Linked DNA regions of Homo sapiens. The protein of the gene in region 2 interacts with the protein of the main gene of each other region in a pairwise test. Each region holds a gene or a part of one and is shown on either strand. Other genes may lie near its edges.

Region 1 (7,818 bases), on a different chromosome or scaffold from region 2:
TAGTTGATGCCAGGTTCTCCGTGGAAACTGAAAGCGCCCTTTGTTTTTATTCCTCCGGGTGATGATGTTGCTCACTCGGCCAGTCGTTTCTCCCCTCTGAGTCCCACAGTGACCATTGATTTCCGGGTCTGGGAAAATGCCTGACAGCAGACACAAGGGAACCCTGCTGGGTTCTGGGGCCCCACTGGCCATCCCGACATGCTGAACCAATTCAGACCCTTCCTCCTGGTAAGGTGGAAGCAGCTCCCGAGTCTCTGTCCTTGCCTGGGCCTGACCTGGTTTTGGGTCAGCCTCCAAGCCCCGTGACAGCACCAGCCAAGTGGTCTGGATGCAGGGGTGACACGGAGGCGGGGCTGCCCTTTGGCTCGTCCCCCAGTGGGAGCAACGCGAGGATCAGTGTGAGAATCTGGGCCTGTGTGCTGGTCCCTCGGTCACGCGCCACTTCAAGGACGAGAGGGGAGACTTCAGGGCAGCCAATGTACATGTGCTCAGATCCTCCGGGAATGCCATCTCCAAGCACAAAGGGCTCTGGAGCTGGAAGGAGAGGCTAGGGTTCCGGCAGTGGGGAGTGAATGGGAGCCCAGGAGGTGGGATGGGAGGGAAGTGGTCGGGAGCTGGCCCAGGCTGGTGGGAAGGGACAGCCGGAGATCAGGGCAGGCTCACCAGGGGATTTTCTTTGTCCTCCATGCTGCAAATGAGGATGAGCTATGCAGGCAAATGGGCCCTGGAGGAGGGGGTTGGCCAAGTAAAATCTCAGAGCAGCCAGCCGGTGCCTCAACACACTGGTCCCACAGTGTGGGAGGCCGACGCCAACAGTGCTGATGCCAGCCCCAGCACACAGGCCCACGGTGTGGGGGACAGGCAGAGGGGAATCCTGGAGTCGTGGAGGAGACCCTACCATACCTCTGGGTTCCCAACTGCTGCTGCGAAGCTGCCTCTGGCCCCTGAGCCCTCTGAGCTGCAGCCCCGGAGTTGCGGGGCCCAGGGTGTGTGGGACCCCGGTTCTCAGGATCCTCTGCTTGGTAAAAGGCAGGTTGCATTAAAAGGCACCTTCCTGTCCACTCCTGTCACACCACATGGAGGCAGCATTTTTTTCGTTTTTTGTTTTAGAAAAGCAGCCACAAGAATGGATGGTCGTTATCTGGGCCAAGACCTGGCAGGGATTTTATCTCCTGCTCACTATGGCAGGCGTTGTCACTGTCCCCTGCCTCCGTGGGGGCAGCCAGTGGGGGAGGTAGTATAGCAGAGGGACTAACATGAGCCAGACAGACCTAGGTTCTGGCCCCGCCACTTCCAAGCATGTGACCTCCAGCCCAAGTCACTCCATTTGTCTACCGCATTTTCAGGGAGACAGGCAGCACGGACCTCCCGAGTGTTTCTAAGGCGATGGTGCCCATGGGCCCCTCATATGGACACTCAGCTGACCGTGACGAGTGGCCACCAGAGTGTGGAGTTAGCACCAAACTGCCTGGGTGTGGTTCCTGGCTCTGTGCCCACTAGCTGTGTGATGTTAGGCAGGTTACCAAACCTCCCTGTGCTTTATTTGCCTCATTTGTAAAGAGGGTATTAAGAGAGAAAATGAGTGCTCGCCCCAGCAGCACATATACCAAAATTGGAATGATACAGAGAAGATGAGCACGACCCCTGTACAAGAATGACCCACATATTCGTGAAGCCTTCCATACTTAAAAATATTTTCCAAAAAGAGGATAAAGGCTGGGTGTGGTGACTCATACCTGTAATCTCAGCACTTTCGGAGGCTGAGGCAGGTGCATCACTTGAGGTCAGGAGTTTGAGGCCAGCCTTGCCAATATAGTGAAACCCCATCTCTACTAAAAATACAATAATTAGCCAGGTGTGGTGGCAGGCGCTGGTAGTCCCAGCTACTTGGGAGGCTGAGGCAGGAGAATGGCTTGAACCCGGGAGGCGGAGGTTGCAGTGAGCAGAGATTGCACCATTGCACTCCAGCCTGGGCAACAGAGCAAGACCATGTCTCCAAAAAAAGAAGAAGAAGAAAAAAAAAGAGGGATAGAGAGAATGGGTAAAGCACTCCAAGAAAGCCTGGCACATGGAGGACATTTGAACATAGTGTTTGCCACTCTTGATTCTGAGACCTCAGGCCCACCCAGAGTGCTGGGGTACTAGTAGCTGCCGCTGCTTACTAGCCAAGTGAGGAAATTACCTAACCTCTCCAACTCTCAGTTTCCTCATCCCTTCTCATAGGTCCATGAGGATTATATGTATTATCCTTGCAGCTGCCTGTGCAGTAGGCACTGCTGTTTCTCCCATTTACATACGGAGGCTCAGAGAGGTTGATTGACTTCCCCAAGGTCACACAGCAAAGAAGTGGCAGAGCTATGAGTGGCACCAGGGTTTGGCTGGCAAGACCTGGGTTTGGCTGGCAAGACCTGAGCCTGCCTTGTCTGGCCACTGTAACTGCACAACCACCAGAAAAAGGGCCAACAATTTGGAGAGGCACACAGGCTGCCTCATTTCTCCCCTGCCAGGACCTGGGCAGGGGTGGGGTCAGATCTAGAGTGATTTCTGCAGTTTTTTCTGATTCTCACAGCAGCTTGGTGAGAAAGGCACACAGTCCCTGCTTTACAATTAGAAGCCTGAGACACAGAGAGGTTAAAAAAAAAATCTTGCCCAAGGTCACCCGGCTGGTAGGGGGCCAGGAAGGACTTAAACCCACGTCTGTGGGTTTGCAGACAGCTGAGCAGTCATGGAGGCTGTGGCTTGGAGTGGGCAGTGTCGCAGGTCAGCTTGTCACCTGGGTCCAAAGGTGGGGAGAGGCCACTCAGGGGTCAGAGGTTGGAGTGGGCGTAGGATTGGGTGGGGCCTTGGGGGACATGGGAGGGCATTGTGGGCAGAGGGCAGGGCTGTGCCTCAGTTTTCCAAGCCTCTTCCTGTGCCACAGTGCCTGCAGGAATGGGGAGCATGGCCAGGAGGTGACGGGCCAGGGGGACTCCCCATTCTACTTCCTGCTGCCCTGGGGAGCACAGGGCCTGTCAGTCTTCCCTAGGCCTCCAGAGTAAGAGGTGAGAGATGGAATAGGTGCCCCCAGGCAGAGGACATGACCAGCAATAGTGTACATAGCAGGTGTCGACCAGGTCAGCAGGTACCCAGAGATGAAGAGATGACCACTTTCTCCAAGGGCAGCCAGTCAGCATGCAGGGCCATCAGCATGGGCTGGGGTGAGTGGCGTGTTCCTTCTTCAGCAAGACAGGGAGAGGAAGCCGGATAGGAGGCAGCTACTGACGTTGACATGCCCACCTCCTGTAGACCCACCCGGCCCTTGTTCCTGGAGGCAACCAGTTTGGGGCTTGGCTCTCGGGTATCTGGGGAGCAGGACACTAGGGCTATCTCAGGCTCTGTGCCCTGACCCCACCCTTGCCCAGGCCCTGGCAGGAGAGAAATGGGGCAGTCTGTGTGCCTCTCCAAACTGTTGGCCCCTTTTCTGGCAGTTGTGCAGTTATCGTGGCCAGACAAGGCAGGGTCAGGTCTTGCCAGCCAAACCCTGATCCCACTCATAGGTCTGCCACTTCTTTGCTGTGTGACCTTGGGCAAGTCAGTCAACCTCTCTGAGCCTCCATATATAAATGGGAGAAACAGCAGTGCCTACTGCACAGGCAGTTGCAACGATAATACATATAATCTTCATGGATTTGGGAGCATAGGCACGCAGCAGCCCCCTTCTCTCTGTGGCTCCTGCTCTCCCAGCCTTGGGCCCCCTCCTCTGCTTCCCTCTCTGGCCTATTTCCTCTCCTCCTGTGCACTTCTTGGCCTTTCTTCTCCTCTGCTCACTCCACCTGCAGGCCTCGGGCGAGCTCGCCACCCAGATCCTTGCTGCCCAGGAGAACAGGGCACGGAGCCTGAGATAGACCTAGTGTTCTGCTCCCCAGAGACCCGAGAGCCAAGCCCCAAACTGGTTGCCTCTGGGAACGAGGGCCGGGTGGGTCTACAGGAGGTGGGCATGTCAATGTCAGCAAGCTGCCTCCTAGCCCCGCTTCCTCTCCCTGGTGGTCTGGAGCCCCTGGCAGCAGGGTGAGGGTGGGGAGGGCAGAGCTGGTGTGTGCCTGACCATACCCCTGGCCCTGCTATCTGCCCAGGGCCCCTGGCCCCCGGCCCCCAAACTCCATTTTCAGCATGTGGGGAAACCCCCTGTATCTGCGTGGGCAAGGTGGGATTTTCATCCCTGGTGGGTGGAGAAGGAGCAGCCCCTTGAAGCAGGGTGATAACCCAAGTTGCCCCAGAAAGCAGCAGCTCCCCAGGCCTCCACAAGGTTAAGCGATGGAACCTTCCTAATGGGAAGGCTGGGCGTGGGGGTCTGGTCCCCAAGATGTTGGGCTTGGGGCCCTCTCGGGCCCTCCATACTCCCCAAGGTGTGGGTCAAGGGCTCTAGCTGTCTGGGCAGTGCCCATGCACCCTGCCCTGCCCCGCATTGGTAAGCTGTGCATGTCTGTGACGACCCTGTGTGTACCTGACATGGGTGAGTCTGTACGTGTGGTCTCGGCTTTTGTATTCGGAGGATCCCGTGTGAGCTGCAGCTGTTGGCGTGTGCCTATGTGCTGGGGGCGGATGCAGGGGCTGGGGACCATCAAGGATGATGTGTGGCTGGGGTGGGAGGAGCAGTGACAGGGCTGGGGCAAGGAGGACTTCAGAAGCCAATTGGAGCCAGGCTTGTCTCCCAGCAGCCAATATGGGAGCTGGGGCTCCTGGTAAGCGAGTGGCTGCTCAGAAACCCTGCGGGGAGGAGGGGCTAGCTAGGCTGGGCCAGGATCCCTGTATAAATGGCCCAGGAGCTGTGCCCCATCACAGAGCCGACCATCTCCCACTCGAGCTGCCCCCGCCCTCTGGACCCGAGTGACTCAGGCCTTTGTTTGTCCTTCCTGGTAGAGGCGGGTTCCCTCCCTCGGCAAGATGCCGGAGTGCTGGGATGGGGTGAGTGAGGGCGCTGCGGGCATCAAGGTGGGCCGGGAGGATGGTGCATCCTTATGACCCACCGCAGGGAGGAAGTGCCCCCCTCAACCCACATCTGGTGGCAGCCCGGCCTTCAAATAGCCTCACCCTGGGGTCACTGAGACACGGCCAGAGTGCTCCAGGTTCCCTGGTGATCCTGTTTGCAGGAGTGGCTGGGGGCAGCTGCTAGTCAGAGCCCATAGCAGGGGCTGGGGGGAGCGTGTGGTTGGGGGGTGGGTGACATATCTGCAGGAAATGGAACGTGGAAGGCACTGTCTGACTTGGCTGCATTGCCCGTGTGGACCCGGGCGCTAGTGCCTGCATGTCCCTCTGACCGTGTGCCCTCTGGTGTGCGCTTGGATGGTGTCTGCCTTGGTGATGCCTGGGGCCATCAGGCCAGGGGGCGGGGGTGTCCTTGGTGAGCCCCCGAGGCTGTGTGCCCAGTGTGCGTGCCGGGTCTGTGCGTGCAGGGGCTGCCGTCCCAGTGGGCGGCCGTCTAGCTTGTTTGGATGGCTGCGCCAGTGTGATGGGAAGGACAGGCGGCCTCTTCCTTAGGAGCCACCTCACAGTTCCCAGGGCTCTGCTGCGCCAGCCGGGCAGAGGCAAGGAGGTCTGGGCCACACAGGAATGACAGCCTTTCAGGCAGGGGTCCCTGCTGGGGAGGAACGAGGAGGGGTTGCCTGCCTGCCTTATTTTGTAGGTGGGGGAAGGCAACGCTGGAGCCGTGAAGCTGGCAGGGCTAGGGGACCCCAGGTGGAGCCCAGGGCACCTCCTCTCGCCGGGGCATCAGGTACCCCGGCCCCATTCTTCCTCAGGAGGGAGAGGCAGGGGCAGACTCACCCCCACCCCCGGGCCCCACACGCCTGCCCTGCCGGTTCCGCAGACGATAGGTCACCCCGCACGCACGGAGGTGACGACGTCAGCACCTGCCCGCCCATGCAGACCCTGTCCCCTGAATTATTGATGCGGCTGACAGGCCGAACCACAGCACCACCAGCACCAACTCCCACACCGGCGCAAAGCCCGGCTCAAAGCCCCACTCCCCTCCAGTGCTCAAGGTCACAGGCGAGGGGAGACGGACCGACCGAGAGGAGCCGCCACAGCCCCCTCCCCTGCTGCCGCAGTGCTTCCCGCCTGCGCCTACCTGGAGGCGGGGCCGGCTCTGACGTCACCCAGAGCCAATGGGAGTGCTCGGCCCTGAGGGTTGGGGGCCTCAGAGTGCACCGCGCTGTGGCCCTTGTGGGGCTGCCCTTGCGCAGCGCTCCAAGGGACGGGGATGTTTGGCTTCGATCAGGCTGAACTGAGTCCTGAGCTCTCCGCAGAGGGTGAGAGAAGGCGTTAGGGAGGTTCGCAGCAGGGTTCAGCGAAGGTCACTGGACTTCGTAGGACAGGTAGCCCGGTGACGCCCAGGCCCAGCCCCAGCCCTTCCCATCCTGGGAGATGAGCCCTAGTAGAGCCTGATCACGTCACCTCAGGGGGATGGGGACAGGGGCGGCCACACCAGGGCTGGGAGAAGACAGTGGGGCCTCCTCAGCAGCAGAGAGCAGACACCCCTCACACCCCTCAGGCGGACCCGCACGCTGCGGGTCTGGGTTTGGAAGGCACCGCCCTGGGCTCTCGACGTCTGACCCCAGGAGGATAACTGTCCTTTATGCAGCAGGAGGCGCATTGCAGTTCTTTTGCAGCCCCACCCTCCAGAGCTGAGAGAACTCACAGGTGGCTGTGAAAGGGCTGCCTGGTCAGGAGCTCCCTCGGGTGGAACCTGATCTCCTGTGAACATGCAGCCTTCAGTGCACCGCCCTGGCCCCTGAGACTGGCACCTGGCAGGGCCTGCCCTCCCTACTCTGGGATTGACCTTGGGCAAGTCATTTCCCTTTCCTAGCCTCAATTTCCTCCTCTATGGCTTGGGCCTATGTGGGAAGTAAATGAGAAAACTGTGGGTCAGTGGTCAGTGGCGGGGAAGTGTTCCTGGATTTGATGGGCCCCGAGAAAGGATAGGCCTGGGATGGGAGGGGCTGTGTGGTCTGTCCCCTCTCAGCCCTGGTGTGGCCTCCTCATCCCCTGGGTGGTGCAATCAGCCGCATGGCTCACCCTAAGGCTCATTACCTGGGCTCTCCTGGAGGACAACAGGGAAATAAAAAGGGCCTGCAAGTCAAAGAGTGTTCTCCAGGGTAGAGCCTTTGGCCACCAGGTTGGTGCCAGCTTGTCACTCCACACTGGAGACACAGGCCTGGACAGTGGTCCTCTGAGACCAGACCCACTAATGCTGGCCCCTGAGCAGCTGTCTTCTGCTGTCTAAATCTCCTTTCCCATTTGGAGGCAGGAACTCAGGTTCTTTCTAAACCAAAGTGTCCTCACCTGCAAAACAGGGACTAGGGTTCCTGTCTCTTGGGTAACATGCAGGAAGCCTGGCACACAGTAGGTGCTCAGTCGCTTGATGTTTCTTTCATGTCCTTGACCCCAGCCCCACCTCCAACTCACTGGGCCACTCACGTGGTTCCCAGGGCTCACAATGATGCAGAGAGGATCGGTTTATTTAGCTCAGATGGCCCCTCTTGAAGTTTGCCCATCCGAGTGGCTAAGAATGCCCAGTTTGCAAAGGAACAGCGAGAAGGGCATTCTCCCAAGGCTCAGGGATGCCCTAGCATAACAGCCCCCTTTCTGGGGCTTTCTCCAAGTGCTAAATGCTCCACAAACATTGGCTTGTCTAGTTCCCGCAAAGTCCCTGTGAGGTGGTTCTGGATGGAGAGGCTGAGGCACAGCAGAGAAGTAACATGACATGCTCAGTCACAAGTAAGGGGTAGAACCAGGTCTTCCTGAGGAAGTAATGACCTTGAGCAGCAAAACCAAAGGTGT
Region 2 (7,093 bases):
CGTGCCACTGCACTCCAGCCTGGGTGACAGAATGAGACTCCATCTCAAAAAAAAAAAAAAAGGAAGAAAGTTCAGGATTTGCATGGTGGCCTAGGCTCTTACAATTGTGATAAGGATAAACCTGCTTCATGTGGGACTCAGACACCAGAACTATGTCTGACCTGTGCTGTGCTTAAATGGGCTTTGCCAACACTGCCTTAGGAGTCTCCTTTTCCTAGCCCCTAGGATTAACCAGTTTGAGGAATGGCCTTCCTTTCCTTCTCCTTTTCCTATTCTAGATACATTAAGGTATTCAATCATGATTTTCTAAGGGCTTTTTCTTAATAACCAAGTAGGAATATGTCCACCCTGATGAATTCTGTGTTAATTTCATGCATTAATAATGCTCAGAGAACTGCCTTACTTCCTATTCCTTGGAAGCTAACTCCTTAGAGCTTCCTTGCACACACACTTCTAAGAGACTTTGTAAGAACTTTTTTTGTGTTTAGCTTTTGCTGAGAGGAGGGTGAAATTTAATAGAGCGCACATAAAATTTCATCTAAAGCTTCCTGTTTGTTCATCCTGGCAAAACAGAGGTACAGAAAGGCTGTGAGGGAGTACATCACTCAGCCTTGAGGACTTGTTTGCATCTGCATTGCACAGTGGGGAATGAGAATGTGACCAGTGACTAGAGTAGGTTATTTATTTATTCATTTATTTGAGACGGAGTTTCGCTCTTGTTGCCCAGGCTGGAGGGCAATGGGGCGATCTCGGCTCACTGCAACTCTGCCTCCCAGGTTCAAGTGATTCTCCTGCCTCAGCCTCCAGAGTATCTGGGATTATAGGCGACTGCCACCATGCCCGGCTAATTTTTTTGTATTTTTAGTAGAGACAGGGTTTCACCATGTTGGACAGGCTGGTCTCAAACTCCTGACCTCCTGATCCACCTGCCTCAGCCTCCCAAACTGCTGGGATTACAGGCATGAGCCACCGCGCCTGGCCAATGACTAGAGTAGGTTACTATTTATTTAGCACCTACTATACGTTCCAGGCACTGTGCTTGGCACTGGGGATGGAAAGACAAATAAGATCTATGCCCCATAGGGACCCTAATGTGAACAAATGGAGCATATTGTGCTAAGTGTTATGGTGGAGGTAAGAATAAGGTGACTTGAGAGAACTGTGTGTTAGGGGAAGGGAAAGGGACAAGGATGGAAAAGAGTAGGTGTTTTCCAGGACAAGGTAGGGAACACAATGAGTTCAGGAACTACAGTCTCCTATGCCTGGAGCCTGGAGTATGTGAGAGAAAGGAGAGAGATGAACCCAAAGAGGAAGGTATGTGTTGCTGAGAAGTCAGCAGCAATTTATCTGTAGGTGGTAGGGAACATGGGCATTAGTTTCCTGCAGCTGCTGTTACATATCAGAAATTTGGTGGCAACAGAAATGGATTCTCTCACAGTTCTGGAGGCCAGAAATGCTGAAAACAAGCTATTGGCAGGACTATGCTCCCTCTGGAGGCTCTAGGGGAGAATCCTTTCCTTGCCTCTTCCAGCTTCTAGTGGCTACTGGCATTCCTTGGCTTGTGGCTGCATCACTCCCATCTCTGCCTCTGTGGTCACAGTGCCTTCTCCTCTTCTGTTGGTGTCAAATCTCCCTCTGCTTCCCTCTTATAAGGATATACATGATTGCATTTATGGCTCACCTGGATAATTGTGCATAATCTATTTTAAGATCCTTAATTACCTGCACAAAATACCACCCCCACTCCACTTTTCACTGTCTAAGGTAACATGTACACTTTCCAGAGATTAGGACATGGGTATCTTTTGGGGAACATTTTTCAGTTTACCACACTGTGGGAGATGTTAAGCAGGGCAACAAATGAGTCAGACTTATGTTTACAAAGATCCTTCAAGGGATGGTGTGGCACAGTCAGAAAAAACCTTCTGAAGACATTGATTAAACCTTCCTCATTCTTCTGTGTTTAATGACTACTTAGTATTCTTGTGAATGAATGTACCATAATTTATTTAAGCACTTCCCTCATTTATGAACTTTTAAGTTGTTTCCAATTTTTTTCTATTACAAACAATGCTACAATGAATCACCTTGTAATGGGCCAATTGCACAATGTGCAAATATAAATGTAGGTAAATCAGGAGCCCATATTCTGGGTTCAGACTCAGACACATTGGAGAAAGATAAGAGTGGATGCCTGTTACATTTTACAATAGATAATATTAATGGATTGTGAAATATATACTGAGCACTGTTCTAAGCATTTTTGAAATGGCTTTATTGCAATAGAATTCATATGCCATACAGTTAATTCAAAGCATACAATTCAATGGTTTTTAGTATGTTCAGAGCTGTGCATGCAACCATTACCACAATCTAATTCCAGAACATTTAAATCACCCCATTAGTCTCTTACTACCATTTCCCCTCCTCCATCCCTAGGCAACCATTAGTCTACTTTCTGTTTCTATGGGTTTGCCTATTCTGGACATTTCCTATAAATGAAATCATACAATATATGGTCTATTGTGTCTAGCTTCTGTGAAAGGGAAATATCTTGGGCCCCCCCAAATTACTAAAGGGAAAATTCAAGCTGGGAACTGCTTAGAACAAATCTGCCTCTCATTCTATTCAAAGTTATCACTGTGTTCACTGAGATAAATGCACATCTGATTGCCTCCTTTGGAAAGGCTAATCAAAAACTCAAAGGAGTGCAACCATTTGTCTCTCACCTATCTGTGACTTGGAAGCCCCCTCCCCCCTTGAGTCTTCCTGCCTTTGCTTCGAGTTGTCCCGCCTTTCCAAACACAACCAATGTACTTCTTACACATATTGACGGATGCCTCATGTCTCCCTAAAATGTATAACACCAAGCTATGCCCCAACGACCTTGGGCACATGTCGTCAGGACTTCCTGAGTCTGTGTCACAGGTGCTGTTCCTCAACCTTGGCAAAATAAACTTCCTGGTTAACTGAGACCTGTCTCAAATTTTCGGGCTCCACACTTCTTTCACTTAATACAATGTTTTCGAGGTTCATCCACGTTGTAGCATGTGTCAGTACTCCATTCTTTTTTATTGCATGGGTATGTCACATTTTATTTACCATTAATCAGTTGGTGGCCATTTGTATTGTTTCCACTCTGTTGCCCAAGCTAGAGTGCAGTGGCTTACTGTACTGACAATCATGGCTTACTGCAGCCTTGACCTCCTGAGTCCAAGCCATTCTTCCTCCTCAGCCTCGCAAGTAGCTTGGATTACAGATGCCCGCCAGCATGCCTGGCTAATTTTTAAGAATGTTTTGAAGAGATGAGGTCTCCCTATGTTGCCCAGGCTGGTCTGGAACTCCCGGGCTCAAGCCATCTTCCCAAAGTGCTGGGAATACAGACATGAGCCACCATGCCCAGTCTACTTTTAGTTTTTTTAAGGTCAGAAAAAAAAACAATTGTACAAACACAAAACAATTTAACAATCTATTATTCCTTTCAACATTCCTTCAGTCACTTTTTTTTTTTTTTTTTTTGAGACAGAGTCTCGCTCTGTTGCCCATGCTGGAGTGCAGTATCCTGGTCATAGCTCATTACAGCCTGGAACTCCTTGGCTCAAGTGAGCCTCCTGCCTCAGCCTCCGGAGTAGCTGGGCTTCCAGGCACGCCCCACCACACCAGACTAAGGCCTTGAGTGATTAAAAAGAAAATCTTTTCCTGTGTAGGCACGATCGCAATATGGATGAACCACAGCCTTTGTTCCCGTCTGCACAAGGCTTCTCCCCCGTCTTTGTGTCTCCGGAGCCTTGCACGTGGTAGGTGCTCGGCATTCGTTGACTGGATCAAGTAGGGCGAGGGAGCGCGGCCCGTTCCGGTTTGAAACTGCTCTGGACGCCGAATTAGTGTTTGGCAGCGCCTGGTGGTCTTCAATCCCAGCCCCTCCGGCCCGCCGCGCCCCCCGGGACCAAAACAAGCGGAGGCGAGCGCGGGCGCGCGGGGCATGCCGGGAGCCCCCCGGTGGGCAGGTGCCTGGGCGGGGCGCGCCGCGGTTGGCGCCTGGGCGGCTGGGCGGCTGCCTAGCACCCGGAAGAGCCGTCAACTTAGCGAGCGCAACAGGCTGCCGCTGAGGAGCTGGAGCTGGTGGGGACTGGGCCGCAATGGACAAGCTGAAGAAGGTGCTGAGCGGGCAGGACACGGAGGACCGGAGCGGCCTGTCCGAGGTGAGTGAGCCCGGGGCCGTCGGCCCCCTCTCGCCGCGCTCCCGCCCTGCGTCCCCTGCCCGGGCCTGGGAAGCCTGCGGGGACTCCCTGGAGTTTCTGGACGGTAGCTCTGCCCCTTCTCCTCCTCTTCTTCTGCAGGGCTCCGCGAAGAGGTCTGGCACTACACGGGGCAGTGGCCGCGGCGTCCTTTTCTGCCCCGCGCCCCTTCAGCCCATCCTCCCTGACAAGGGGGCGGCGCAGGAGGAAATCCCCGGACTGAGCTGCGAGTGGGAGGGTGGGCGACTGGGCTGTCGGCCCCGGCCCCACCGGCCGGGGAATGCGCTTTAGGGCCGGGTAGGGCTGGGGGCCCCGAGGTCCAGGCGGAAGGAGCCTTTGCTGGGTGGGTCGGGGCCCCAGACCCGGACTGGGGTGTTGGGGTGGCGGTCCCTACCTCGCGACGGGGCTGGTGGCCGCGCCCCGAGCTCTGCCTTGGTTTTCTGTCCGGTTTAGGTTGTAGGGTGTGACACTCCCACCCGCCCCTGTACACATTGCCTTGTGATTGGGGGTGAGAAACTGCCCCCATCCCATGAGGACAGGGACCACATCTTGTGTCTCTGTCCACACTGCCCACAACTAGTCTCTAGACACCCAGCGCCTCAGGAGACTGCCTGCGTGTTGGTTTGTTTTATTAGAAAAGCTTTTTTTTCTTTTTTTCTGAGACAGAGTCTCACTCTGTCGCCCAGGCTGGAGTGCAGTGGCGCGATCTTGGCTCACTGCAGCCTCTGCCTCCTGGGTTCAAGCGATTCTCCCACCTCAGCCTCCCAAGTAGCTGGGATTACAGACACCCGCCATCAAACCCGGCTAATTTTTGTATTTTTACTAGAGACGAGGTTTCACCATCTTGGCCGGGCTGGTCTCGAACTCCTGACCTCAAGTGATCCGCCCACCTCTGCCTCCCAAAGTGCTGGGATTACAGGCATGAGCCACCGCGCCCGGCCTATTAGAAAAGTTTTGATCGTGCTGAAACCTGGCCACTAATGTCCTATGTTGTAGAACCACACAGAATGCTGCATTTCTATTTAGGGTGCTTTTAGCTTTTGTTTTCCTTTTTGGATGACAAAATAACGTTTCTCTTCGCTTTTTGGTGTATTCTTTAGCCTCCGTTCCCCATCTGTGAAATGAGGATGTTAAGATGATATGGCCAACTGGAAACTAATCAGTGTTTCTTCTGGTTTCTCAGCAAGTTCTTCTTTCTCAGCAAGCTGCTTTCACCCACGTTTGTGGTTGCTGATTTTATTCGGTTTTGTTTTGTGTGATACTGGGACTTAGCATGACATCTCCGAATGTAAGATTGCTCTCTGAATCTTCACCTTGAGGGAGTAATTCTATGGGATCGAATGTTGGAGTCACTGAAATTTAACTTTTTGATATTTCAAAACAAGTTGGTGGGTTCTTTTTAATTTGTTGCCTTTATTAATTGGTCAAGGCTCAGAGTAATTTCACGGGTTTTTTTTTCTTGATTTCTAGCCTCTATTATGAATCTCAAGTGGAACCTCAGACCGGGCCTAAGAAAGGTCTGACTCATAGGTAGCTGACCCTCGTTATTTAAAGCTTTATTTCCATAGACTGTCAACAAGCCTTTATGAACAATTGGTGCTTAAGAGGCAGACACTTTCTCTCCCTGCAGACTCTTGAGGGGTGGAGTGTTGACAGTGGGATGATGCAGATATTATTGTCTCGAAAATCATCACGAAGCAGTGGGCTGACCCTCAACAGTGGACGACTAGTAAAGTTTGCAAACATAAATGCTGAGCTTGTTTTTAACCTAAAATGGTGAACGTCTGTGTTGGATACTGTGAGAAGGGCTTTAATGTGTTATGCTGAGGCATCTGTTGGATCTAATTTAAAAAGAATAGGTGCTTCGTTCTTGTTTTAAAATACTTTGGTCAGTTGGTCAGTTTCCTCTTTCTGAGTGAGATTTCTGTTTATAACATCATTGTATGGCACTTCCAGAGTCTTGAATTCCTAGGAAATGTTTTGTTGCCGACTAACTTCATCTTGCAGGCTGTTTCAGCTTAGTGTTTACTGATTAGGTCAGAGCCTCCTTTAAAATATTGGTACTGATTTGATTGTCTCATATTTTTCATGGTTTGGGGGCTGGTAGAACTGGAGGATTCTGTGGGGAAATTGCTATTTTGTGTGGTAAGTTGAATTAGGCGCTCTTAAAATCTCTTTAAGAGGTCACTAGAAGAGAGTGCTTTTTAAAACCTTTATTCCTTTAATGCAAACCATAAAGGTGTGACTAGTTCTATTTCTCCTACCTCTCCTAGGTAGTTATAAAATTTGCATGGCAGTATCTAATTATAGCCTCACGTTGAATTTTGTGATTGATACCTCATCTTCATAAATACACCTTAAGTCTTTAGTTTCAATGGACTTCTTTCTGAAAGTATAGGTTTTATGTTTTTTATAAAGGATTCTGGGGACAAGAAAGGTATGAATAGTATCTAATTTTAAAGTGTGGAAATGAAGCAGTATTTCTTTCTTACCTTCTTCTGGTTACCAATCCTGTTTTTCTGAACAATTCTTAGTATTATTCTTGGCAAGAGCCCCTCTTCTCTCCACATCACAGAGTGAAAGGGACCTTTGTGAATAACTGCCAGTCAGACTGCCTGTGAGCGCATTGCCTACAAATTCCATCCAGGTACCATTTTAGCTACTCTAATTTCCAAAAACAATATGCTAGCACAGCTTCCAGCAGTCATGAATTTACAGACATTTTATGAGTTTGTTTTCATAATTTGGCAAAAAGAAGTGTTTTGCTTTCACTGAGTCCAGTTATGAGAAGTGGAACAACAGCTTCCTCCTTCCCTGACCAAGTGTGAATGTAAAAGAACTTGCAACCACATGTA
Region 3 (5,440 bases), on a different chromosome or scaffold from region 2:
TGCCATGCTGCCTGCGACCTTAGGCAGGTCACAGCTCTCGAGGCCTCAGTTTCCTTATTTGTAAAATAGGCATATGATTCACTCCTATAAATGCTGGATACTTGCATTTCCAAGGCATTTTCCAGGCTGTACTAGACTACGTATGTATGAGCACTTTGAGGACAGGGAATATGTCTTAATCATCTGTATATTCACAGCAGGAACTCAAAAATGTTTACTGAATGATCAGATACCTCTTGGAAGAGGGGACTAATAACACAGTTCATCGGAACTCAAGAAGAGAATTTTACCAAGGGGGAGAGGACAAGAGATCATTACATTTATAGATAAGACCCTTGCATTTGAGAAAAATAGTTTTAGAAGAGGAAAGAGATGGAGAGATGGGTTAAAAATTGAGGGTAAAGGCCGGGTGTGGTGGCTCACGCCTGTAATCCCAGCACTTTGGGAGGCCAAGGCAGGCAGATCACGAGGTCAGGAGATCGAGACCATCCTGGCCAACACGGTGAAACCCCGTCTCTACTAAAAATACAAAAATTAGCTAGGCATGGCAGGGCGCAGTGGCTCACACCTGTAATCCCAGCACTTTGGGAGGCCGAGGTGGGCGGATCATGAAGTCAGGAGATGGAGAGCATCCTGTCCAATACGGTGAAACCCCATCTCTACTAAAAAACAAAACACAAAAAATTAGCCGGGCGTGGTGGCGGGTGTCTGTAGTCCCAGCTACTCTGGAGGCTGAGGCAGGAGAACGGTGTGAACCCAGGAGGCGGAGCTTGCAGTGAGTCGAGATCGAGCCACTGCACTCCAGTCTGGGCAACAGGGTGAGATTCTGTCTCAAAAAAAAAAAAAAAAATAGCTAGGTATTATGGCACCTACTTGTAATCCCAGCTACTTGGGAGGCTGAGACAGGAGAATCGCTTGAACCCAGGAGGCGGAGGTTGCCGTGAGCCGAGATCGTGCCACTGCACTCCAGCCTGGCAACAGAGCAAGACTCAGTCTCAAAAAAAAAAAAATTGAGGGTAAAGGCCGGGCATGGTGGCTCCTGCTTGTAATCCTGGCACTTTGGGAAGCCAAGGCAGGAGGATCACTTGAGCCTAGGAGTTTGAGATCAGCCTGGGCAACATAGCAAGACCTGCCTATTAAAAAAAAAATTGGCCAGGTGCGGTGGCTCATGCCCATAATCACAGCACTTTGGGAGGCCAAGGGGGGGCAGATCACCTGAGGTCAGGAGTTCGAGACCAGCCTGACCAACATGGTGAAACCCCTTATCTACTAAAAATACAAAATTAGCCGGGCGTGGTGGCACATGCCTGTAATCCCAACTACTCAGGAGGCTGAGGCAGAAGAATTGCTTGAACCCAGGAGGCAGAGGTTGCAGTGAGCCAAGATTGTGCCATTGCACTCCGGCCTGGGCAACAAGAACGAGACTCTGTCTCAAAAAAAAAAAAAAAAAAAAGATGAGAGTAGGGCAAGGGTGGTGAGGTGAAAAACAAAACTGAGGGTAGTAAATATAGATGCCTTTTTTTTCTTTTTCTGAGATAGAATCTCACTCTGTCATTCAGGTTGGAGTGCAGTGGTGTGATCTCGGCTCACTGCAGCCTCTACCTCCTGGGCTCAAGTGATCCTCCCACCTCAACCTCCTGAGTAGCTGGGACCACAGGCACACGCCACCACACCTGGCTTATTTTTTATTTTTTGTAGAGATGGGGTTTTGCTGTGTTGTCAGGCTGGTCTTGAACTCCTGGGCTCAGATGATCCTCCCACCTTGGCTCCCAAAGTGCTGGGAGATTACAGGCCACTGTGCCAGGCCTATACATGTGTCTTGACACAGCAAAAGAGAGAGCTTTGATGAAGACTTTGTGAGGACATAGGTGACCTGAAGGAGTTTGTGACCAGAGGAGAAGGCACTATGGGGACTGAAGGGCAATCCTGGAGAAGTGAGGGTCGTGTCACGGTGGGGCAGGAGGGTCCAGAGCAAGCTAGAGAAGTCCCAGGCCTCTCGATGATAGGGAGGGCAGAAAGGGAAGGAGTGAAGACCCAGGTGTAGGCCTGCACAGTCAAGAGTTTCCCTTGGTGTTGACCCTAGGGCAGAGGAAGGGGGGTTTTCTCTAGGAGTGAGAGGGCTGGGGCTTGGGGAGAGGATGAGGCCAGGAGAGTCGCTGCTGGGGGAAATTCCTTCTAGTGTCACTGCTTACCTTCCTGTTTGGAGCTTCAGCTGAGCCCTCCAGACCCTTTCAGATTAGAAAGGAGCAGTCCCATGAGCCCCATGGGGACCCCAGTGCACTAAGAGTGAGGGGCTGTGCAGGGTCACACATGGGGCCGGTGCTGCTGGACACAGGGCACCTCCCAACTCCCTGCCCTGTACTCTGCGCTTGCCCCTGTCCCAACAGGTTCCCCTTCTACTTTGAACTGAAGATCGCCTTCGTGATATGGCTGCTGTCCCCTTACACCAAGGGCTCCAGCGTGCTCTACCGCAAGTTCGTGCACCCAACGCTGTCCAACAAGGAGAAGGTTTGCCCCCACTCTCAGCTCACCTCCCAGCCTGCCCCCAGCCAAGGCAGTCCAGAGCCTGCAGCCTCATACAGACTGGCCCTCCCTGTGGGGCCCAGAGCCCAAAGTGACTTGGCAGGGCTGCCGTGGCCTCCCGGAGCAGGCAGGGGCCTCTGTCCAGGGGTGAACAAGGGTAGGGCAGGACCTCTCCTCTTCTCCCTTCCCCTCCAATCCCATAGGAGATCGACGAGTACATCACGCAGGCCCGAGACAAGAGCTATGAGACCATGATGAGGGTGGGCAAGAGGGGCCTGAACCTTGCCGCCAATGCTGCAGTCACAGCTGCCGCCAAGGTGAGATGGGGGCAGGCTCAGACTCCCAGGGCCCCTACCTTGTACAAAGGGCCCTGGCCAGGCCCCTTTGCATCCACCCTGTACTCGGGGCTGTAGAGACTCTGGGCTCATGCAGCTGGAGGCTCCAGTCCAGGCTCTACTGCTATCTGGCCGAGTCACTTTGATTGTCCGGCCATTTCCCCATCTGTCCCCAGAGGCAAAGTGTGGCCCTGCCCCAGCCCTCAGCTCTGTCTGTGTGGGACTGGGTGAGGACAGTGTGGGGAGGGCACCGAGCCTGGGGCTGCTGCCAGCACCATGGTGACCTCTATCTCCACCCCGCCCCTTCCCCCCGGCTCTCCCGGTGCGTGGTGGTGACCCTAGGGCCAGGGGGTGCTGTCAGAGAAGCTCCGCAGCTTCAGCATGCAGGACCTGACCCTGATCCGGGACGAGGACGCACTGCCCCTGCAGAGGCCTGACGGCCGCCTCCGACCCAGCCCTGGCAGCCTCCTGGACACCATCGAGGACTTAGGTACAGGCAGGGCCCGGGGTTGGGGTGGGGCCCCAAGGGCAAGGAGTCCAGATGGGAAAGATTCCCCCACCTCCTTTTCTCCCTGCACCCAGGAGATGACCCTGCCCTGAGTCTAAGGTCCAGCACAAACCCGGCAGATTCCCGGACAGAGGCTTCTGAGGATGACATGGGAGACAAAGCTCCCAAGAGGGCCAAACCCATCAAAAAAGCGCCCAAAGCTGAGGTGAGGGCACTGGCCAGAGCTTGGGGAAACAGGCAGGGGGTGGCGGCTCCAGGCTGAGCCCCATCTTCCTCCTTCTTTCCACAGCCACTGGCTTCCAAGACACTGAAGACCCGGCCCAAGAAGAAGACCTCTGGCGGGGGCGACTCAGCTTGAGCCCCTCCACCCCCGCAGGCTGCAGAGCAAGGATGAAGCCTCAGGAGGGGCCTCAGACCCAGCCCCTGCTCCACACTGTGCCAGTAGCCTAGGTGTCTCAGGCCCCTGGGCCCCGCAGATGGCCATTTCCGGTGCCTGCCCAGTGGCCACTCTTCTGGAAGGGGCTTGGAAAAGAGGAAGGAGGCCCAGCTGTGGGGGTTGAGGGTAGAGGGTGGACCAGAGGCTGAGGACTGAGCCACCCAAGGAGGTGGGGACTGCTCGGCCTCCACCGCTGTTCCGCTGCAGCCCCGCCCTGCCCCACCCACCCAGTGCCTTGCTGAAGCCCATAGCAATCCGCTTCTCAGAGGTCCTGTCGTGTTTCCACTGCTCGCCTTGGTTTGGGAGCAGGGAGGGGGAAGTCCTAGCCCAGATGGACCAAGGACGGGCCTGAAGGCACATGGGGGAAAGGGAGCACACGGGGAGGACGTTGGGGACCCTGGGTGGGGCCTCCAGGTGCAGCTGTGGATGGAAGACAGGGATTGGCCTGTGCTTCAGCGACCAGGATGGCCAGGCCAGAGCTGCAGCTGGGGGCTCTTTTCCTGGTCATTGGGTGGGGCTGAGTGCCACATGTTCCCACATTAAAAAGGGGGGTCCAGGGCTGTGTGAGTGTGTCTTTCTGGGTCTAGGGCTCGGGGTAGTTTGGGTCAAGGACTGTCCCTCCAGCAGTCGCCTCCTCCCACCCTGAGCCCCACAGTCATCTGGCCCTTTCCCTGCTCAACCCTCCATCCTAGGCTCTGAGCCTCAGAGGACCCAGCCCATGAGAGAACGGGGATCTGGGGGGCCTCTCACCTGCTCCTATGACCTTGCTCCCTTTTAGGTCACCCCATTGCCACCGTGCCCCTGGGCTGGACTCCCGTGCTCCTCAGGGCCCACCCCTGCTCTGTCTGGTACAGGCCCCTGCTGAGTGGGCCCCTCTCCTCTGCCCCTGGGGTCCATCCCCTCTTGCCCAGGGTCCCCATCCTGTACCAAGCAGACTGGGCCCTAAGACCCCTGGCAGAACCCAGCCTCTGCTCACACCCGCCCCAGCTTCTGCCACGGCTTCAGTCAGGGCCAGGAGGAACACGTGAAGGAGAAAGAGAAATGCAGGAGCCGCGGGGCTCCCGGTTCCTTGGGAAGAGGGTGCCCATTGGACCTTTGGCACTGGATGAGCCAATAAACCAAACTCTGGCACCTCATTTATTTTGGCCTCTGTGCTTTGTTCTTGCCACACCAGCTGACAGGTGGGAAGGACCTCAAGTGAGAAGCAGGGTTCAGCTGGGGGAGTGGGGAGGCCAGCCTGTGACTGACAGGAGCTCTGGTGCCCAGCTAAGAGATGGGCTTGAGGGGGCTCAGTCTGGGAAAATGGTTTTGGGACTCAAGATAAAACCAGAGGCCTAGGCTGGGCGCAGTGGCTCATGCCTGTAATCCCAGCACTTTGGGAGGCCGAGGCGGGCAGATCACGAGGTCAGGAGATCAAGACCATCCTGGCCAACATGGTGAAACCCCATCTCTACTAAAAATACAAAAATTAACCAGGCATGGTGGCGCGTGCCTGTAGTCCCAGCTACTTGGGAGGCTGAGGCAGGGGAATTGCTTGAACGTGGGAGGCAGAGATTGCAGTGAGCCAAGATCGTGCCACTGCACTCCAGCCTGGTGACAGAATAAGACTCCGTCTCAAACAAAACAAAAAACAAACAA
Region 4 (5,514 bases), on a different chromosome or scaffold from region 2:
GCCCCTATGAGCGTCTCTTTGGATGCTTGCATCCCGCTTGATGTTTCATCAGCTTTCTTTTCTTGGTTCAGGTACTGCTAAAGTAGCTGAGGGCTCAGAACAGTGGGGAATAGGAGCATGAATGCAAGAGACTTTGGTAGAAAGAATTATGGTAGTATTATGGCAGACACATTTTGGTTGTGTCAAAATTAAAAACCATAGTGTTACTCTGGTAAAGAGGATGGCACTGAGGCTGTTACTCTCCACATACACCCCTTCATTGCAGCTCTTGGTGTGGATGCCGATAGGCTGAACAGTTCTGTGTGGAGATGAAGTAGCAGCCGTGGTTCACAGATTTCTCTCCTGCCTCACCTCTCCTAGAATTTATTATTCAGCAGTTGATATTTATCCTGTCTTCTCCTTGTTTTTGCTTGTTTGCTCACCCTATCCTTCCCTTTGTTTTCATTGTCATTGCAGTAAGCCTTTGCATAGGTGTAAATATGGCTCTCATGTTTATATATTCAAATTTCAAACATATTGAAACCATTAATTATTTGCCTCACCCACCAGAACATAAGCTGCATGAGAGCAGCAACTTTGTTTCTTTCCATTGTATCCCAAGAGCTTGGAACAGTGGACTGGCACATAGTAGTCATTAATAAATATTGGTTAAATAATTGATAAATGTCATGCTTTCCCTTTTTTTTTTTTTTTTTTTTTTTTTGAGACGGAGTCTCTCTCTGTTGCCCAGACTAGAGTGCAATGGCATGATCTCGGCTCACTGCAATCTCCACCTCTCGGGTTCAAGTGATTCTCCTGCCTCAGCCTCCTGAGTAGCTGGGACTACAGGTGTGTGCCACCATGCCCGGCTAATTTTTGTATTTTCAGTAGAGATGGGGTTTCACCATGTTGGCCAGGCTGGTCTCGAATTTCTAACCTCAAGTGATCCACCCGCCTCGGCCTCCCGAAGTGCTGGGATTATAGGCGTGAGCCACCGCGCCCGGCCCATGCTTTCCCTTTTTATAACATGAGGTACCTTGCATTTGCCACTGTTAAATTCTCAGACTGTCTTACTTAGGTTTTGTGGAGTTAGGTCGGGTGGAAGTAGGATTTCAGGAGACTGTGCTCTAGGCTGTCTGGATTTTAGTTCTTTCCTTCGGAAGGCCATTCTGTAATTGTGTCTCTGTACCTAATGTCAGATCCCAGGCCAGTGTCAGGTAGATGTAAGTGACGGTGGGACCGTTACCTTCAAGAACGTTTCTTCTGGTCACAGCTGTAACATCTTTACCAGAGAAGGGATTTCAGACAGTAACAAAACTGAGTGGTGAGAAGTGAAATGCTCTGCCATAATACTGATACCGTCCCCAGGGATTCTGACACAGCCAGCAGCAGTACGTGTTCATCAGCACTGAAGCAGGGCACCTCCTGATTCAGCAGAGAGACCCTCCCCTCCCCAGCCATGTTGGCGGCTGCCCTAGGATTGCTGATGCCCATTGCAGGGGCTGAATTTCTCATTGGCCTGGTTGGAAATGGAGTCCCTGTGGTCTGCAGTTTTAGAGGATGGGTCAAAAAAATGTAAGGAGTCCCTATAAATTCTCATGATTCTGGTAAGTAGCCACTTTCTCCTACTCAGGCCGATCATGTTGGACATAAGTCTGTTTCCACTTTCCCAGAGCAGTGGTTGGCTTTACTATCTTAATGTCTTCGAGTCCTGGTAAGCCAGGCCAACATGTAGTTTGCCACTTTCTTCAGTGGCTTCTGCTGCATGGAGATCATGACCTTTGTCCCGCTGACTTCTTGTAGCTGAAAAGACTGGGTTTTTGTTTTTTGCTAGTGTCTTTCAAGATCACTTTTTATTTCTCAGCTCTTGTTGGCTGGACCCTTTAAAAACCCTTAACAGGAAACAGCAACATCCTGCATCCCATTTTAAATCTGTTATTTTTATAGATTGCTGTCCAGTGAAGGAGACTGATTGCTATTTGTGATGTTTCTGTTCCACTTGTCTTTTTGTAAAGACATCACAGGAAGATGGAGGACCACACAGCTGTCAGGAGGAGGCTCAAACCAAGGTGCTCATCGCTCTGAACTTCCCCCTTTACATGGTTTCTGCCTTGGCCAGACACTTTTCCATGACCTTCTAATCTCCCTCTGATCTCACCATTCTTGCCATCTCTGCAACACTCATGGCTGTTTATACTTCATTTCCGTCTATTGTAATGGTTATGAGGAATCAGACTTGTCAGAGAATTCTGTAGGAGATGATATGTACATGGAAATCCTAGAGGCCATGACTTGGAAGAAGGATCTAATCAGGCCCTTAACTGTATCACTGACAACAGTAAAAATAACTGTAGATTTTAGAAAAATGAAATTTTTATTCTCAATTCTCCTCATTTCTTCTTTGATTTTGAAACAAAATGAAAGGGTAACATGAAAAACAGGCTAGAAACTGGAGCTTATTGCTCTCTAAGCAATGCAAATCACATCATTTTAATAAACTACAGAAGTCAAAACCGAGTTTTCATATTTTGCATGGGAAGTATCACATTTTTAAAAATTACTGCAGATAATCAAGTTTTCTTTGCCAATATGCTATGTTTTTGATAAAAGGAAGTAGAAAATAGCTATAGTTTGAAAATAATATATTTTAAAAAGAGGTGAGCCTGTATATTTTTTAGGCAAGCACTTTTCTTAGGGGAATTAGCTAAATTATTATCTCAATTTTCTATGTAGTTTAGCCTCTCAACACCGGTAGTAAAGTAGTCAAAAACCTACCTTTATATTTCTGGATACTTTGGTTTTTTTGATGCCAGACTAGCTTTCTGGAAACGTGTCAGTTGGCTACCAGGATCGGTGGCAAATTCCACTGCCAGGCTAGATTGGGGCAGGTGGGGAGAGAGAGGCACTATGTCTCTATCAGAAAGTCACTGAAGAAACACTGTTTTTGGACGAGTTCAAGCCTCATCTAGATTTTTAGTCCAGTAGAAGATCGCGACCACCTCTGCCCCTCCATAGCCTACAGCCAGAGTTTTAGAGTACCAGGCCTTGCAGCTTGGTGGAGATGATGTACAATGGATGCTACCTGGAGGCAGGGACTGTGTATTATAATGGCGCCGTCCCCTGTGCCTAGTACACCGTAGTTTGACACAAAATAAGCACTTTGTAAATTTAGTCCGAAGGAATGGAAATCTCATCCTACAATCCATTCAGTTATTAATAGAGCAACTGAGGCCCAGAGACGGGCAGTGGCCTGCCTGCCTACAGCTTCGTAGAGAGTTCTCAGCATGCTTACTTTTTTTTTTTGAGATGGAGTCTTGCTCTGTCGCCCAGGCTGGAGTGCAGTGGCGCGATCTTGGCCCACTGCAGCTTCCATCTCCTGGGTTCAAGTGGTTCTCCTGCCTCAGCCTCCCGAGTAGCTGGGACTACAGGCAGCCACCACCACGCCCAGATAATTTTTGTATTTTTAGTAGAGATGGGGCTTCACCATGTTGGCCAGGGTGGTCTCGAACTCCTGGCTTCAGGTGATCCACCCGCCTTGGCCTCTCAAAGTGTTGGGATTACAGGTGTGAGCCACCATGCCTGGCCCAGTGTTCTTTTCATGAAAATAAAATTTCTTTTTTTATATAGCATATGAGCTCATAACTGGCACTGTATAGCACCTGAGCATGTTTTGATTTGGTCTTTCTTGTTGAGGGGCCTTGTTACGTTATACCCTGGTGTCTAGACTTTGGCCCAAAACCTTTGAGATGGAGAGCCGGTGTCTGTGGTACTGTTTGCAATCTCTGGTTCTACACTCAGGGTTCATTCATGTAGATGCAAATACAGATGGTATCATAACTTCCAACCTCTCTGTTCCTCATCACAGCTGTTCAGTCTCGCTTGAAGACAGATTACGGAAGGACGAGGCCAAATCCAGATTTTGTGGTGTGAAAATTTACCCTGGTGTGTTATCACTACCAGGGGATCTGACCTCAGCCAGGAGCAGTGAGAGCCTCCTCTCCCCAGCCATGCTGAGCGCTGGCCTAGGACTGCTGATGCTGGTGGCAGTGGTTGAATTTCTCATCGGTTTAATTGGAAATGGAAGCCTGGTGGTCTGGAGTTTTAGAGAATGGATCAGAAAATTCAACTGGTCCTCATATAACCTCATTATCCTGGGCCTGGCTGGCTGCCGATTTCTCCTGCAGTGGCTGATCATTTTGGACTTAAGCTTGTTTCCACTTTTCCAGAGCAGCCGTTGGCTTCGCTATCTTAGTATCTTCTGGGTCCTGGTAAGCCAGGCCAGCTTATGGTTTGCCACCTTCCTCAGTGTCTTCTATTGCAAGAAGATCACGACCTTCGATCGCCCGGCCTACTTGTGGCTGAAGCAGAGGGCCTATAACCTGAGTCTCTGGTGCCTTCTGGGCTACTTTATAATCAATTTGTTACTTACAGTCCAAATTGGCTTAACATTCTATCATCCTCCCCAAGGAAACAGCAGCATTCGGTATCCCTTTGAAAGCTGGCAGTACCTGTATGCATTTCAGCTCAATTCAGGAAGTTATTTGCCTTTAGTGGTGTTTCTTGTTTCCTCTGGGATGCTGATTGTCTCTTTGTATACACACCACAAGAAGATGAAGGTCCATTCAGCTGGTAGGAGGGATGTCCGGGCCAAGGCTCACATCACTGCGCTGAAGTCCTTGGGCTGCTTCCTCTTACTTCACCTGGTTTATATCATGGCCAGCCCCTTCTCCATCACCTCCAAGACTTATCCTCCTGATCTCACCAGTGTCTTCATCTGGGAGACACTCATGGCAGCCTATCCTTCTCTTCATTCTCTCATATTGATCATGGGGATTCCTAGGGTGAAGCAGACTTGTCAGAAGATCCTGTGGAAGACAGTGTGTGCTCGGAGATGCTGGGGCCCATGATCTGGGAAGAAAAGTGTGGTCAGGACACTCTTGGGACGCTCTTTTGATAGCTCTCTATAAGGGAGCTGCTTTCCATGTCTTTTAAGATTTTCCTTCTTTTACACCAATGTAATGAATGAGCAACAGAAAATACGGATCAAAACCCAATACTATGTCTCTTTTGGCAATGCAAAGTATATTTTTTTAATGTACCACAGAAATCAAGGCTAGGGCTTCATGTTTGGTAAAAGAGGTATTATATTCTCTCTACATATAGCAAATAATTCATATATAAATCGTGTTTTTCCTATTATAAAAAGCAGAGATTAGGAACAATTCTGTCTACATATAGCAAAAATTCATATATAAATTGTGTTTTTCCTAGTATAGAAAACAGAGATTAGGAACAATTATAGTGATCATTAATTTTTATGAAATTTTACCTATACATTAATGTTAGTCATTTTAGATATGCTTTTTAAAAAGTATCAAATAATTTCCCCATTTCTCTGCTGTAATGTATCTAATTATCTAACTGAAAAACAAAACAAAACATCTTTATATTTCTGGAAGTTTCTTTGAGCCCTAGCCTTGGCTTTCAGAATAAAAATCAGGCTCACGCCTGTAATCCCAGCGCTTTGGGAGGCTG

What was found.
Region 1: the proteins of SFT2D2 (region 2) and NDRG4 interact in binary tests that used the Homo sapiens proteins (3 or more experiments, as listed by UniProt).
Region 3: the proteins of SFT2D2 (region 2) and REEP2 interact in binary tests that used the Homo sapiens proteins (3 or more experiments, as listed by UniProt).
Region 4: the proteins of SFT2D2 (region 2) and TAS2R5 interact in binary tests that used the Homo sapiens proteins (3 or more experiments, as listed by UniProt).

Annotation. Positions count from the first base shown.
Region 1 is NC_000016.10:58,495,326-58,503,143, forward strand, and holds the start of NDRG4 (protein NDRG4), read left to right. Parts: upstream 1-4,817; 5' UTR 4,818-4,923; coding exon 4,924-4,944; intron 4,945-5,662; coding exon of another isoform or gene 5,663-5,752; intron 5,753-7,818. UniProt on the Homo sapiens protein: Contributes to the maintenance of intracerebral BDNF levels within the normal range, which is necessary for the preservation of spatial learning and the resistance to neuronal cell death caused by ischemic stress.
Region 2 is NC_000001.11:168,221,941-168,229,033, forward strand, and holds the start of SFT2D2 (vesicle transport protein SFT2B), read left to right. Parts: upstream 1-4,063; 5' UTR 4,064-4,139; coding exon 4,140-4,202; intron 4,203-7,093. UniProt on the Homo sapiens protein: May be involved in fusion of retrograde transport vesicles derived from an endocytic compartment with the Golgi complex.
Region 3 is NC_000005.10:138,442,028-138,447,467, forward strand, and holds the end of REEP2 (receptor expression-enhancing protein 2), read left to right. Parts: intron 1-2,387; coding exon 2,388-2,508; intron 2,509-2,726; coding exon 2,727-2,840; intron 2,841-3,200; coding exon 3,201-3,348; intron 3,349-3,440; coding exon 3,441-3,571; intron 3,572-3,655; coding exon 3,656-3,724; 3' UTR 3,725-4,938; downstream 4,939-5,440. UniProt on the Homo sapiens protein: Required for endoplasmic reticulum (ER) network formation, shaping and remodeling. May enhance the cell surface expression of odorant receptors.
Region 4 is NC_000007.14:141,786,376-141,791,889, forward strand, and holds TAS2R5 (taste receptor type 2 member 5), read left to right. Parts: upstream 1-3,841; 5' UTR 3,842-3,986; coding exon 3,987-4,886; 3' UTR 4,887-4,992; downstream 4,993-5,514.